2 linked regions of the Homo sapiens genome follow. The protein of the gene in region 1 interacts with the protein of each later gene in a pairwise test. Each region holds a gene or a part of one and is shown on either strand. Other genes may lie near its edges.

Evidence for each region.
Region 2: the proteins of NELL1 (region 1) and ATN1 interact in a two-hybrid assay, tested with the Homo sapiens proteins (one large-scale study listed by BioGRID and IntAct).

Annotation. Positions count from the first base shown.
Region 1 is NC_000011.10:20,924,586-20,928,085, reverse strand, and holds part of NELL1 (protein kinase C-binding protein NELL1 isoform 1 precursor), read right to left. Parts: intron 1,374-3,500; exon of another isoform or gene 1,290-1,373; intron 779-1,289; coding exon 644-778; intron 1-643. UniProt on the Homo sapiens protein: Plays a role in the control of cell growth and differentiation. Promotes osteoblast cell differentiation and terminal mineralization.
Region 2 is NC_000012.12:6,930,959-6,934,458, reverse strand, and holds part of ATN1 (atrophin-1), read right to left. Parts: intron 620-3,500; 5' UTR 458-619; coding exon 431-457; intron 284-430; coding exon 146-283; intron 1-145. UniProt on the Homo sapiens protein: Transcriptional corepressor. Recruits NR2E1 to repress transcription. Promotes vascular smooth cell (VSMC) migration and orientation. Corepressor of MTG8 transcriptional repression.

The DNA.
Region 1 (3,500 bases):
TTTGCAGACTCTGTCAATCATTTCTGAGGCTCTAACAATCTGTTTTGTATTTTCCTAGACAAACAATGGCATTCTTCAGATATTTATCAAGTAATTTCAACTGGACAGGGTTTCCATACTAATTTTTGGAGGGGGATGTTGTAATTCACTGAAACAGATGAAGGGATATACAAATAATGGATATCCTCACACTGACAGTGAGTCAGGGAGGAAATGCCTTGCAATTATTTGAAACAGGTGATGGATACACTTTGCAAAAGACAATAAAAACATGTAGAAAATAATTAAACTCCCCTTTTAAAGTTATTCTGGTTGTGAATAAGGATAACCATTAGGTTGTTTGAAAATCAAAGGAGTCCCTTCTTTCCACTATATCCCAACCTTCAAACTCCAAACATTGCCTATTAAATCAAATTAGGGTGTGTTGGCAAGGGAAAGCAGATTTTAATTTCCAAGTATTCATATAAGACATGACACTCTTCCAGCATTGCTTCACAATTGCTCGTATGGCTAGTGGGTGCTAGGTAAAAACCTAACAATTCTCAGAGTTAATATTATTTATTAAAGAACCAGGTTACACTCTAATTATCAAACCTCTCCCCTTAAAACTGTTTTTACTGTATTTATTTACAAAGAGGCTTACTTTGCAAGTGCAGTTCCTGCAATGGTCACCATCTACCCAAGAGTCTTGATCTCGATAGAGCAGTCCACTCACTTGACAAGTCTTCTCACAATGACAGTTTTCCAATTGACTAAGTCTTGTCTCTGCATAATTTAGCTGCAAACAAGAGTTACTGAATGTAATTTCTGTAATTCAATTGCATCATCCTAACAAAGCTAATAGCAACAAGAAAAAAAATCCTTCTGAGAAGAGAAAAAAATGCTCAGAGCAGTTCACTGATTCTTAGCATTATCTGTTTTTTGTTTTTTTTATTTTTTTTACACAAGGTGGAATCACTCTAAATTGAAGAAATATTGGCTGTCATGGTCTAATGAATACCAAATGAGACATTAAACTGTAACTCAGGAACCTCATGGGTGTTCATAAATGTGTGTGCTTTCCATTCAAGCCCACACAAAAACACTCATAATGAATGTGTTCTCAAGGACTCATTATGATGTTTACAGGCGATCTAATCAGGAACTCCGAGGCACTTACATTTATCTCCCACTATCCTCTCTATGTTCTTCACACACTAACTAGAATGTCGTGGTTTACAAACTAGGAAGTCACTGCCTTCTGTCTGATGAAAAATTCTGGAGAGCTGGGGTCAGAAAAAAAGAAAAGTCGTAAGCGGATCCCCCAAACAGAATGCCCCAGGAATTCACTTTTGTGCTTAGAAGAAGGACAGGAAAAGTAACCAAAACCCCAGGTAAGATCAGAATTTTGTAAAATAACCTTTTTTATTTTTCTAGGCCACCCAGTCATTGCCAATAATCACAGAGTCTTAGACTCTCCTGCTGGAAAGGGATTATAAAGCTTGAATATCCTCACAAGAAACCTCAAGTGATTATCTAGCCTTTGTACATCTCCAGTGGAGGAACATGTATTATCTTCCAAGGAAAGCCACTTTTCTCAGTTAGCTCTCTTGTTTGAAACATTTTTCATGGTTTTGGCTGTGAAATCTTTCTTTTTTTCCTGCCATACCTAGGTTTTCATTGTAATCCATCCTGAGCAAACCTAATCTTCAAGCATTTGAGGTTATCCTGTCGTCTTGACCACACTTGGCACCACCAGGTTCCCTTAACAGCTCCTCATGATATGATTCCAAGCCTCTCTTCTGATCACTTTTCATACAGCCTACTCCAGTTTACCTTCAAAAATATGGTGCAAAAAAACCCTAAATACAGCACTTTGATATGATCTGTCTACTGTCACATCCACACGAAAGAGTAACTCAACCTAGTAGTGATATTACTCTTCCTTTCCTTTCCCTTACATAGAGACCACCATGATTGAAAAACAAGTATCGTTTCCTAGAAAATTATCTGAGTTTCTCTTTTCCTTCTCAATCATGTTTATCCTTTCATGTCTTAAGTACTTTCCCCATACAGGAGATCAATTCAACCTTTGATCTAACTAAGATTATTTTGAGCCACTATTTTAGACATAATAGATAAACCTAGGGAATGACTTCCACCATCTTTCTACATTAACTATGGTTCCATTTCATACACCTTCCTCTGACTTACTCATACCAGAACTACTCTCTGGAAATGGAATCCACATGTAATTCTAACCTTTGTTTTTGTCATTTATTTCATCCTCTTCCTCCAAGCTTTTGGAATTTCTCAAGAAAATTTACCCCTTGTCTGCCTTTTGTGGGTGGTAGCAAAGGGTAGAAAAAACAAAAAATAGGATCTTAGACCAACCACCATGCACCATGAGCAGCCCCTAAAGAACTAAGAGTTGACGCTGCCTGAAATATTAGCTTCCTATCACTCCTTCTAATATGCATGATCTTCTAAAAATCCATGTTTCATTTAAAACTCCAGCCTAGGTCAAGTGCAGTGACTCACACCTATAATCCCAGCACTTTGGGAGGCCAAGACGAGCAGATGACCCAAGGTCAGGAGTTTGAGACCAACCCAGCCAACATGGCGAAACCCTGTCTCCACTACAAATACAAAAAAAAAAAAAAAAAAAGCCGGGTGTGGTAGCGGGTACCACCAGCTACTCTGGAGGCTGAGACATGAGAATCTCTTGAACCTGGGAGGCAGAGGTTGCAGCAGGCCAAGATCATGCCAGTGCACTCCAGCCTGGGCAACAGAGCGATACTCCATCTCAATAAATAAATAAATTAATACAACAAAACTCCAGCCTAATCATAGAGTTTATAGAATCTATGATAATTAAGTTATTTGGCAATGCTTTAGGAAACGGATAAAATACACTGCTGAGTTTGGTGATACTCTTGGACACTGAGGGATGATGGCATATGGTTTGGCCACTTGCAGATACCAAAATCTGAAAATCTTCAAGTCCTTTATATAAAATAGTATAGTTTGCATATAACGTATGCACATCCTCCTATACACTTTAAGTCATCTCTAGATAACTTATAATAAGTAATACAATGTCTAAACATCAATTCATTCACATGGATTCAATGCAGTACTCGGTACATGGAAAATTCAAGTTTTACTCTCTGTAACTTTTTGGAATTTTTTTCTGAGTATTGTTGGTCCATGGTTGGTTGAATCCACAGATGTGGAACCTCAATAGAAAGAAAGTAACAACTTATCACTTATCTTTACTTCATTTCCATAGCCCCAGTAGTTCCTACACAAGGCAGTAACAGATATATGACCTTGGATTGAACAACAGAGTTGAACCAGATCTGCATTCCTCCTAAAAGGGTCTCAGAATTGTGTACCTTTGTGAGAGGACCCATACGTGCCTTACTCTGAAAATCTGGAACAATTCTGGTGTCTATATCACTCCAAGAAGGGAACTTCTTAAGGACTAAATGGCCCAAAAGGCAACTCTATATCTATCT
Region 2 (3,500 bases), on another chromosome or scaffold:
GAGAGAAAGAGAAAATTCCTGTCTTTTCCCTACCTCCCGAGCTCCACCGTTACCCTCTGCCAAACAGGAAGTTCCCCCACAACACACACACACCCTCAGCCCCAGTGCCTTGGGCATCCTGTGGGAGGACCTGAGGACAGAATACCTTGGCTGTCTGCCTGGACTTCTCAGCTTTGCCATCACTGCTGGACGTGCTGACCCCTCCAGGGGAGGCCCGGCCCCTCGATCTCAGTTCTTCCCGGGGCCCAGGGGCCTCTTTCTTCCGTCCACTCCTCATTGACATCTACAGGAGGAGGAAGGAGGTAGGTAACACTGTTCTTTACATTGCACCTAACTTTATGGTGCACATTATTTGTTCTTCTTCTCTAGACCCTTCCTCCTAGCTTGCCTGCCCCGCCCCTCATCTTTCATGTCTCTCATTTTAACTCACCGAGTCTTTATTCTGTCGTGTCTTCATTCTTCAGGCTGTGGAGACCCCATTCTCCTCTGCCTGGGCAGCTGAATACAGAAACTTCTCTGCTCCACCCCAAGTTCCCCACAGCTGTGGTCTGGGAAGCAGGATCTCCAAGTTTCCAGTGTGGGCACCTGGAACTTTTGCAGGATCTGTTTTCAATGAAACCTGTTAGAAGGAAACCATCAGAGTCTCCAACTTGGAGAACAGAGTCACAAAGGAATACTATTCTGCTTGTCAGAGAACTGAGCAAGCGGCCCAACCCTAAGCCTTTGGGCCAAGAGGTACAGATACCACAAGACATTGCTGGCATGCCCCATGGGCTACCTTAGCTATCTAAAAGGGAGGCAGATTCTGCTCGAAGTATAATCTCTTTCATCTCTGTAGAGGGCAGAAAATTCGGATGTACCTACAAGCCCCAATCCAGGAGATCACACAGTTTACCCTTCATGATCCCTAAAGGATATTTGTGAACACACACATTCCACGGAGCCTTACAAAGGAACATAAAGAAATGGAGCGGGGCATGGTGGCTCATGTCTATAATTCCAGCACTTTGGGAGGCCTAGGTGGATGGACCACAAGGTCAGGAGTTCAAGACCAGCCTAGCCAACATGGTGAAACCCAGCCAGGCGTGGTGGCACGTGCCTGTAATCCCAGCTACTCAGGAGGCTGAGGCAAGCAAATCACTTGAACCTGGGAGGCAGAGGTTGCAGTGAGCCGAGATCATGCCACTGCACTCCAGCCTGGGTGACAGAGTAAGACTCTGTCTCAAAAAAAAAAAAAGAAAAAAGAAATGACATTGAAGTATGAATTTATTGAATACCTTCTTTATATCAAGCCCTTCACATACATGATTTCATTTAATATTTACAACCAACCCTGAATGGTAAGCATTATTACCCTCATTATATAGGTGAGGGAACTGAGGCTCAAAGATTGTGATTGTGACTAGCCCAACCTCACACAGTGAGGAACCAGTGACAGAGCCAGAATCAAACCCATGTCGGTGACTTCAAAGCCCATGCTCTTTCTTCTATACTTTGCTGTATTCTCCTCAGAAGTTGCTGGGGAGAATTCTCAGAAGGCCTAGATCAGTCACAGAGATATGAAAAGAATCTTTTCTCACATCAGAGTAGGTAGAAGAAGAATGTCCCATTCTATAATACAAAGGAACACAGCCCTACCAATCCCAAGACTAAACCTAGGTAGCCCCAAATTGTAGAACTTCATTTTTGAGAGCCCCATAAAGGACCCATTCTCTAGTACTTGAGCTCCCTAAGGCTAGAGGAAAAGTCAGGGTTTTCACATGAATGATTAAAGACTCAAAATATCCGTGAGCAAACAACACAGATGTACCAGTTTTTAAGCCTATCCTCCTACTTGGTGTAGACTGGGTTACACAGTTTCTCACAGCCAATCCATCCGTATCTGTCTATCAGCAGGTATCTATCTTTATCCAAATCCCTATAGCCAGCTGTATTCATTTGCACTTGTTTGTATTTCTTGCTAAGTGTCAAGTCCCTCCAAATTACTGATTGTAAGATCTTTTGAGAGCAAAAATGGTATTTTCTTACTGTTTTCTTCCTTTCCACTGATGTGTGTGCGCTCTTCTTGTGATTGACCTTTAAACCCACTAACATCAGTAGGTCTTTCTTCCTGAATTAAGTGCTGCTAGCTCCAGTGGGAACAGACTAAGCTTACCCATGTATTCTATTCTGAGTTGGAGGCCTGCTAGGTAAACGGCATGTCCATATTCTGTAGTGTATTTTTTCCCAAGAAACACAGTAATTCTCACTCACCTCCACGGAACCATACTGATGCAGGCAGTAAGGGGTGAGTCTAACCTTTCCAGGAAACTTCACAATTTACTTAGAATCACAAAATTGCTGGGACAGAGCCTATCTTCTGAACTTTCAACTGATGCTCTGCCCAGTAGACTTGTCTTTTTTTTTTTTTTTTTTTTTTTTTTTGAGACAGAGTTTCACTCTTGTTGCCCAGGCTGGAGTGCAGTGGCGTGATCTCACTCACTGCAACCTCTGCCTCCCAGGTTCAAGCGATTCTCCTGCCTCAGCCTCCTGAATAGCTGGGATTACAGGCATGCACCACCACACCCGGCTAATTTTTTGTATTTTTAGTAGAGACAGGGTTTCACCATGTTAGTCAGGGTGGTCTCGAACTACTGACCTCAGGTGATCTGCCTGCCTCGGCCTTCCCAAGTGCTGGGATTACAGGCGTGAGCCACTGTGCCCGGCCAACTAGTTTTCTTTTTTTTTCCTTTTTTTTTTTTTTGAGATGGATCTTTGCTCTTGTTCCCCAGGCTGGAGGTGCTATGGCATGATCTCAGCTCACTGCCACCTCCGCCTCCCAGGTTCAAGCGATTCTCCTGCCTCAGCCTCCCAAGTAGCTGGGATTACAAGCGCACACCACCACACCTGGCTAATTTTTGTATTTTTAGTAGAGACGGAGTTTCACCATGTTGACCAGGCTGGTCTCGAACTCCTGACCTCAGATGATCCACCTGCCTCAGCCTCCTAAAGTGTTGGGATTACAGGCGTGAGCCACCATGCCCGGCCTTTTTTTTTTTTTTTTTTTTTTCAACTACAGCTATTTTCCCACATTTTTTAGTTGTTATGTAGACTGGTTTTAAAATACTATCAACCAAAAAAAAAAAAAAATCCGAAGAACAACACCCACCATAGCAAAAGAGGAAAACAATCTTAAACAAAAAGCACAACAAAGATGACTATTTGTGATTGGTGTATTTTTGCCAGCCCTCCTAGAGAAGGGTGTCCATCTCCCTTCCCCATCACAGAACCTGTTCACCAAGTCAGTTAGGTTAGGGGATCCAAAAGGTCAGAGAAACACAGGAATGTACCTGAGGAACACAGCAATCATAGTATGCCCTTCTTTTTTAATCACCTGAAATCTGATAAAAACTAGCAATGAGAAGCTTTGAAGGAGAAAAGCAGTCATAAAAGAACAAGTAATCCTGGGGATAAGGAGTGGCAGACGAGGAAAGGAGTTAGGGGTGGATTGTGTGTCTTTC